Homo sapiens: one gene and its partner. The protein of the gene in region 2 purifies or fractionates together with the protein of the main gene of each other region. This does not show direct contact. Each region holds a gene or a part of one and is shown on either strand. Other genes may lie near its edges.

Region 1 (3,830 bases), on a different chromosome or scaffold from region 2:
TACATATGGTTTATTTACAAAAGAATGTTTTTATGGGATAAATTTCAAACAAGAGTAAATGTAGCCTGTTTCCTCAGTACTATGTTAATATTACTATAAAAGCAACTACAATCTTATTTTGTGATAAGGCAACATAGCTAATTTGTCTGATTTATCTACTAGACAACAAACTGCTCCACAACAAGAACACGACTTATCCAGTTATATTCTTATAAGCGAGCACCACACACACACACACACAAATACATATAGAAATGCAATACACATACCCAATGAAAGTATTCTACTTGATATATTCAAGGAGAGATTAATAAAACAGCAAATGTAAAACACTACATATCTTCAAATTTAGATACGTAAGACAAAACATACAAAATTCTCTATTGTTTTTAATTCATCCCATACTGCTCAAATGAGCTAACAAGGGATTGTATTTATTTTAAGCTCCCAAGAGATATATAAAGAAAGCAAAATAGCTGAGGTTGTATATACTTAATATATGCATACACATACATGATGAATACATTCCTATTTTATTGATTCAAATACAAATTATTTTATGTATTCTTTTCAATGTTGTTTCATACTGCTTATTTACATTGTTGTTGTTTTACAGGTATCCTAGTATTTTTATACTGTACATAAACACACACACACATATATACCAGTAGTAATATATATGTGTGTGTACATATATAGACACACACATATATATTTCAGTGAAATTAGAAACACAAATGTCCAAATTAGATAGCTTTTATATACATGCCCTTAAACTTTCAACAATCTACCTATCTAGAGATGCAAAGAATTAGAACGTATCATAGGATAAAAAGGAAAATATGGCAATATATTCTCTGGGACCAATTTCAGCAAATTCTTACAGCACAGTCTTTGCCAAAGATGTGAACTCCACGAAAGCAGACAGCATGTGTGTTTTATTGGCCACTGTATCCTCAGTGCCCAGCATAGTGTTTAGCATTCGACAGATGTTTGGTAGGTTCTTATTAGACAAACGAATAAAGTGAATAAATTAATATGGACATCTTTTTGGTTTATTTATTTTCCCAGTGGTTTATTCGTTTTCCCAGCTTTTCTGCAGAGTTATTACAAGGCCTCAACAGTGCTTTAGTTTTTCTTTTCAATATCCTGTTCTGCAGCTTCCTTGGTCCTTTTTGCCCAGAGGCCAAAGAGCCAGGCATTGATATGGCAGGTTTTTTGTTTTTTTTTTTTTTGAGACAGACTTTCGCTGTTGTTGCCCAGGCTGGAGGGCAGTGGCACGATCTCCACTCACTACAACCTCTGCCTTCTGGTTTCAAGCGATTCGCCTGCCTCAGCCTCCCGAGTAGCTGAGATTACAGGCACCTGCCACCATGCCTGGCTAATTTTTGTACTTTTAGTAGAGACAGGGTTTCACCATGTTGGTCAGACTGGTCTCGAACTCCTGAGCTCGTGATCCATCTGCCTCAGCCTCCCAAAGTTCTGGGATTACAGGCGTGAGCCACCGCACCTGGCCTGACGTGGCAGTCTTGAAGTTCTCTTCCTCCTTGGTGATGACTCTGGCTTTCTCCTTCGTATAGGTATTTCATATGAACATTACCGGTCCTGTCAGTGTGATGGCCAATTTGAGTTCTTCAGTGTAGCTGTCTCTCTTCTCGGAGGCTGAGGTTTCTAGAGAAGGAGGATAAGCTTCCAGCAGTACTCCTACAGCTGTTATACATTGGCCTGCAGGGACTCAGTAGACTTGTCTCACCTCCTTGGATCAATAGAGAAATCAATGGTCCAGGCCATCTTCTTGTGGATGCTGGCCACCCTTAATTCTTCCAAGCTGAAGCCCCTACCAGCTTGTACTTGGTGTGAAACCTCATGTGGGGCATTTTACTAGGGGCCAGTGGGTCCAGATACAAGGCACCGGGCAATGCAGTGGGCTTGCCCAGTCCCATGTCTGTGGCTCTTCCTTGCAGGCTGGGTGAACCATATTGCTATAGGCCACTGCCAGTACTTACAAAAGTGGGGCTTCAGGATTATGCCATTCCTGCTGGGCACCATGGCTGACTATAGCCCTCCAGCAAAGAAGAAGAGCCAAGGAGAATGGCTAATATTGACATCTTATAAGGAAACAGAAAAACAGTGATTCCGAATATTGTATTTTTTCCCTCATTTAATAGCTATTCACCATTGTAAAAGTAATGTTTTTCATCTTCAGCTTTTAAAAAAACTGTGGCAAATAATATCAATCTAACAGTATTCCCTTCATTAAGCAAAGTTCTCTGAGAAAGAAGTACACGAAAGATGTTAGAAAAAAACTGAATATTGAAAAGGAGCTAGCAATATTGATAGTTTATTTTAAGCAAAGACATGTCACTACATTTATATTTCAGATTCAGTGTTACGTAAGCATGATATTCTTATCTTCCTATAATATTTTCAAAAAAACACAACAAAAAACTTTAAAACATACATATTACTGAAATACCTGAGTATATAATAACATACTTCAAACATATGCAAAGTAAAAACCAATATGTGAAAACATATAAACAAATATATTACAATTTCTTATATTAAATTTTAGGAATGGTAACCAATTAGTAATTTATCTGGTTTAAGTCCATATTTAATTTCCATATAAGTCACTTCAATAATTCTTGATTGAATGATGATGTGTACTTAACAACTAACAAGCTAATTCCCAAACCTTTATTAAAATTAACATTTGGTATGACACATTCAAAGTGAAAATAAATATGAAAATGAAATATCATATAATATTCCTAAAGAATATTGTTAATCTTAAGTAACCAGTATCAGATCTATGTTGTCAAAGGAAACATTTCTGTGACAGGAAAACACAGTCAATAGAATGAATGGTATCATGTGAGTTAACCTTGCTTGGTTTCAGCAAAGCTTTAGGATTTTTTTGCAACCAAACTTCTGATCATCAAACTGGACAACACTTCCTAGAAAAGTGGGGGAGCGGGAGCTGACTGGAGAAAAAGTATTAGTGTGAACAGTTGCATGACATGAATTTACTCTTAACTTTTAATTTTTCAAGACTCAGAGAATGCTATCCTTTTATCCAATAATCAGTAACTAAGAGGTATGTCGTATCATTCCCACCTAATTTTTAATGCCAATCCTCTCCTAGAGCATTATGATGTTACTATGCATTCCATTACGTGCTTCCTGTCAAGCTTATGCCTCAAGAAATTGGACAGGAACTGTTAGGTGAGAACATTTAGTGGAGAAGAGACATGGGATTCACTGCTAAGTCTGGTGACACTAACAAAAAGCCCATGTACAACTAGATCAGACCACACTAGTCCAAGGATCAAATCCAGGCAAATCTCAAATTGGGACGAAATCACAAATAACATCAAACAAGAAAGGTCTAATGATACTTCATCCTTTCTACAATAACTAGGAAAACAGAACAATAATGCTAAATTTAATTAGCAACCTAGCACTGAGGTATCTAAAACCTTGGACAAAAAAATAGTAATTTTTTTTAAAAAATTAAAAGGATAAAAAAATACAAAAAAATACTGAATATTCAAAATAAAATGTCTCTGGGTGGGAAAACAATCTAAGAATAACATGTCAAAACAATAACAAACTAGGAGGAAAAACACAACAATTTCATGCAGAAATAACACCAAAAATGAAACAACAGATTAAATGATAGCTCAAAATAAAATAATAGATATATAAATGTGAACATATGGTATTTAGACACAGTGCAGTAATCCTTAAATTAATAATCAGTTCTGGCCAAAATTATATCTGGCCCAGGTCAGGGTTGTATGTCAAAAGAAAGTCTGAATAGAGTT
Region 2 (3,830 bases):
TCTACAGTATTCAGTGTAGCAACATTCTGTGCAGGTTTGTAGCCTAGGAGTGATAGGGCATTATCATATTGCCTAAGTGTGTAGTAGGCTATACCATCTAGGTTTCTGTAAGTACTGTGCACTCTATGACTTTTGCATAATGACGAAATTGTCTAATGATGCATTTCTCAGACTGTTTCCCCATAGTTAAATAATAACTGTATCTGAAGTATAATTGTATCTGAAAGCTAATGTAAAGTGGGTTACAAACTGGGAGTCAGCTGATATGACCTAAGCCAGACTTCTGCTGAAACAATTAGGGAAGAAGCATTCTCTTTCTACTAGAATTATTCAACTGTAGTGTTTGCCTGGCATTTCCAAGTTCTGCCACGTAGATGAGGCCTACTGAGTGTGTAGCCTACCACAGAAATGGGAAGCAGGGGTGTGAAGGGGGAAGGTGGTGGGAAGAAGTATCTGACAATACTTTTAGAATTACTGGGTCCAGACATGCCTATAGTTACCACTTGGACTTTTCTGATTTGAGGCAATTCCTTCCCTTTTTTGTTGGAGCCAGTTTGTGTTATGTTTCTTGCAAACAAATGAGTCCTGACTGATACACCCTGGGTAGAAGCTGAGAATGGTTTCAGGAAATGGCTAGAAAATGTACTCTGTTAACCAAAAATAAAATTCTAAATCCCCTGATCATCTGAAGGGACCCCTCCTCTCAGCAAGGGCATTCCAAAGCTAACCTGAAAAACTAGTTCAGGTCATGATGGGAAGGGGGCAGGGGTCAGACATGCCTCATTATACCCTCTTCCCTTTTGGAATTACTGATAGAACAGACTCTTTAAGTCTGATAAAAAACATTTACAATCTATTCTCTCTGAAGCCTGCTACCTGGAGGCTTCACCTGCATGATAATAAACCCCTGGTCTCCACAACCCTTTATCTTACCCAAGGCATTCCTAAGTTTTTAGACAATAACAATTCCTTCAAGCAAACTGTTAATCAGAAACTGGAAGCCTCTGCTTCCAACTGTCCTGTCTTTCTGGACTGAACCAATGTACGTTTTACATGTATTTGACTGTTGTCTCATGTCTCCCTAAAATGTATAAAACTAAGCCATATCCCAACCACTTCGGATACATGTTCTCAGGATCTCCTGATGGCTGTGTCATGGTCCATGCTCACTCATATTTGGCTCAGAATAAATCTCTTCAAATATTTTGCAGAGTTTGACTCTTTTCATAGACAAGTCAAAGGCGTAAATGGTCAATGAACAAAGATGTCTTCAATTAGGAGGTTAGACTAGAGCAAAGTGTGCAGACCAGGCAGGAAAACTCTGTGACTATGGTCTTGAACTGTGAGGAAGCAGTGGAGAGCTTCCTAGTGCAGAACATGGAATGCTCTAAAGGAGACACAAACCACAGCCAGGCTCTTATTAGCATTGTGATTCTGGACAAGTGACTGGCTAGGCTTCAGATTAGTAGCTATAAGACAAGGATAATACCCACATTTGGGGTGGCTATCATGAAATTTTAATGAAATAATGCTGTACTCCATGTCAGGCACTTTATAAAAATATTGGCTTCTTTCAATTCTTCTAGATATTACTTTTAGATGTTATATTTAAAACAACATATGTTTCTGGCAAATTACTTTACATTACTAAACATCTTATTTATTTCATAGGTTTCTGTGAAAGAAAACATGACAGAACTGGCTTAAAAAGCTTACTCTAGGGATTAGCATGTACGTGTTCAATAAAAATTTTGCAGGTAGTGCATAGTAGGGTAGTGAAGAAAATAAGTTCTGGAGTTAAACTTTCCAGGTTCAAACATATTCAAACCAAAATTGTGTCTAGGAAGCCATCGGACTGTATACCTTTCCTCCATTACTTCTCCATTTGAGTGGAGAAAAGCTAAGAGCTGATCCAGACTAGACTTCTTTCAGTTATCAAGTATTACCTTACTGTCTGCAATATGCACATACTGGGATTTAGAAACAGTCAGAAAAGTATAAAGGACACGGAGAATGGGATTTTTTTTTTTTAAGACGTTGCTGCCCAGTCTGGAGTGCAATGGCATGATCATAGCTCACTGCAGGCTCCAACTGCTGGGCTCAAGGTCAGCCTCCCAAGTAGGTGGGACTACAGGCATGCACCACCATGTCTGGTTAATTTAAAATAAAATGTTTTTGTAGAGATGGGGTCTCACTTTGTTGCCCTTTGTTAAGGGTGGTCTTAAACTCCTGACTTCAAGTGATTCTCCCGCCTTGGCCTCCAAAAGGGTTGGGATTATGGGAGTGAGCCACCATGCCTGGCTGGGATTTTTTAAATTTCCTGCATTGTTACAATGTAAGTTTTACTTTTTCTTCGTATGTATCAAAGCACAGAATTACTCATGCAAGAGCTAGGAATAAATGCAAAACAATCACGGCAAAATGATATACTGGAAATCAGATCCTTGAAGCACTGGGTGAAGATTTCAAGTTTTTTGACAGAAAACTTAAGAGAAAATACACTCTTGTCTTGGCTATTCCTGTCTGCAACAATTTCTTTCTTCTCTGAACTAGACTTACATTTACTGTTAATAGCATGAACTTCAGGGTCTAAATGACACAGATTGTAGGGCTCTCTAATTGTGTTAAATGTGTAGGTCTTACCTTTCTAACAGATACGTGTCTCAGGGAAAAGCATGGTTATGAGGTTTCGAGTGTGGCATGGTGATGGGGGTGGGGTTCCTATCCATAGGACAAGGCACACAGCAGGTGCTCAAGAAGCATTTTTCGATTGCCAGATTGCAGCTCTTGATACTTGTTAACGAGAAGTTTGACTTTTCTGAATCACATTCCGTACTGAAGACCCAGAAACTGAAGTATGATACTGTAACATTCTAGGCTTAAAACCTGGGCCTCTGAATTATAAAGAAGTGTTGTGAAAATCTTCATTCCTTTTTTGGTTGTGTTGAAACCCCAGCTACAAGAATCTTTGTACTTGGCCTCTAGCCTCATAAGTTTGTTTTTCCTCCAAGCAGCTATTAGAAGACTGTGAGCCAGATAATTCTTGTCAAGGCCTGTTGAGATCTAAAAATAATGTTTGAAGCTGGTTTCAGAGACCTGAAAAATGGTTAGATCCAACTGTTAGCTCAATAAAATCAATTAGTTTATTTTCTACTTGGCTTTCAACACTGATGACATTATGATATGCTTGTTTCCAATATGAACATTTGAATTTCTTTTTGCCTTTTCACACAGTAGCCAAAGGCAAAACAGACACAAAGTTATTTTTATCTTGAAAGTTTTTCATGCCTTAATTCTTATGTGTGCATATGCCTGTGAAGGCAGGGTTTGGAGCAAGCAAGCTGTTTTGACCTTTTATAAGACTGGTTTTGTGTTCCATGAATACATGGAAGAAAACGAGTTGAATGCACTTTTAGGCTTGTCACTTAAATGTTTCAAGCATGTTTGATCTTCTTGGTAAGAAAGACAATAAGCTCTCTTAGGAAGGCATCCTGTCTTATTTTTGTAACTCTAACTTTATTGGGAGCTGTGCATATACAGAGATAGTTAGAACACTGTGGGACTGGGTTTTAATCTCCCAATTTTCATTTATGCCCACCAACTGTAGATGTAACAATCAATCACAAAGCTTCCTCTTGTCACTCCTTTCTCCCCTTTTAAAAATAGACGTATTTATTTTAATATACACTTTGAGAAATAGAAAACCTCATGATTTTATGGACATTAATGATTACAATGATTCTAAGGGAGATACTTATATAATTTATTTTTAAATAATTTAACGCTTAAAGTGAGTTAATTAAAAAAATACGTCGGGCACATAGTTTTAC

Evidence for each region.
Region 1: the proteins of SETMAR (region 2) and XRCC4 purify together in Homo sapiens (affinity purification with western blotting, with the first as the bait; one study listed by BioGRID). This does not show direct contact.

Annotation. Positions count from the first base shown.
Region 1 is NC_000005.10:83,199,448-83,203,277, reverse strand, and holds part of XRCC4 (DNA repair protein XRCC4), read right to left. Parts: intron 1-3,830.
Region 2 is NC_000003.12:4,306,228-4,310,057, reverse strand, and holds part of SETMAR (histone-lysine N-methyltransferase SETMAR), read right to left. Parts: intron 1-3,830. UniProt on the Homo sapiens protein: Protein derived from the fusion of a methylase with the transposase of an Hsmar1 transposon that plays a role in DNA double-strand break repair, stalled replication fork restart and DNA integration.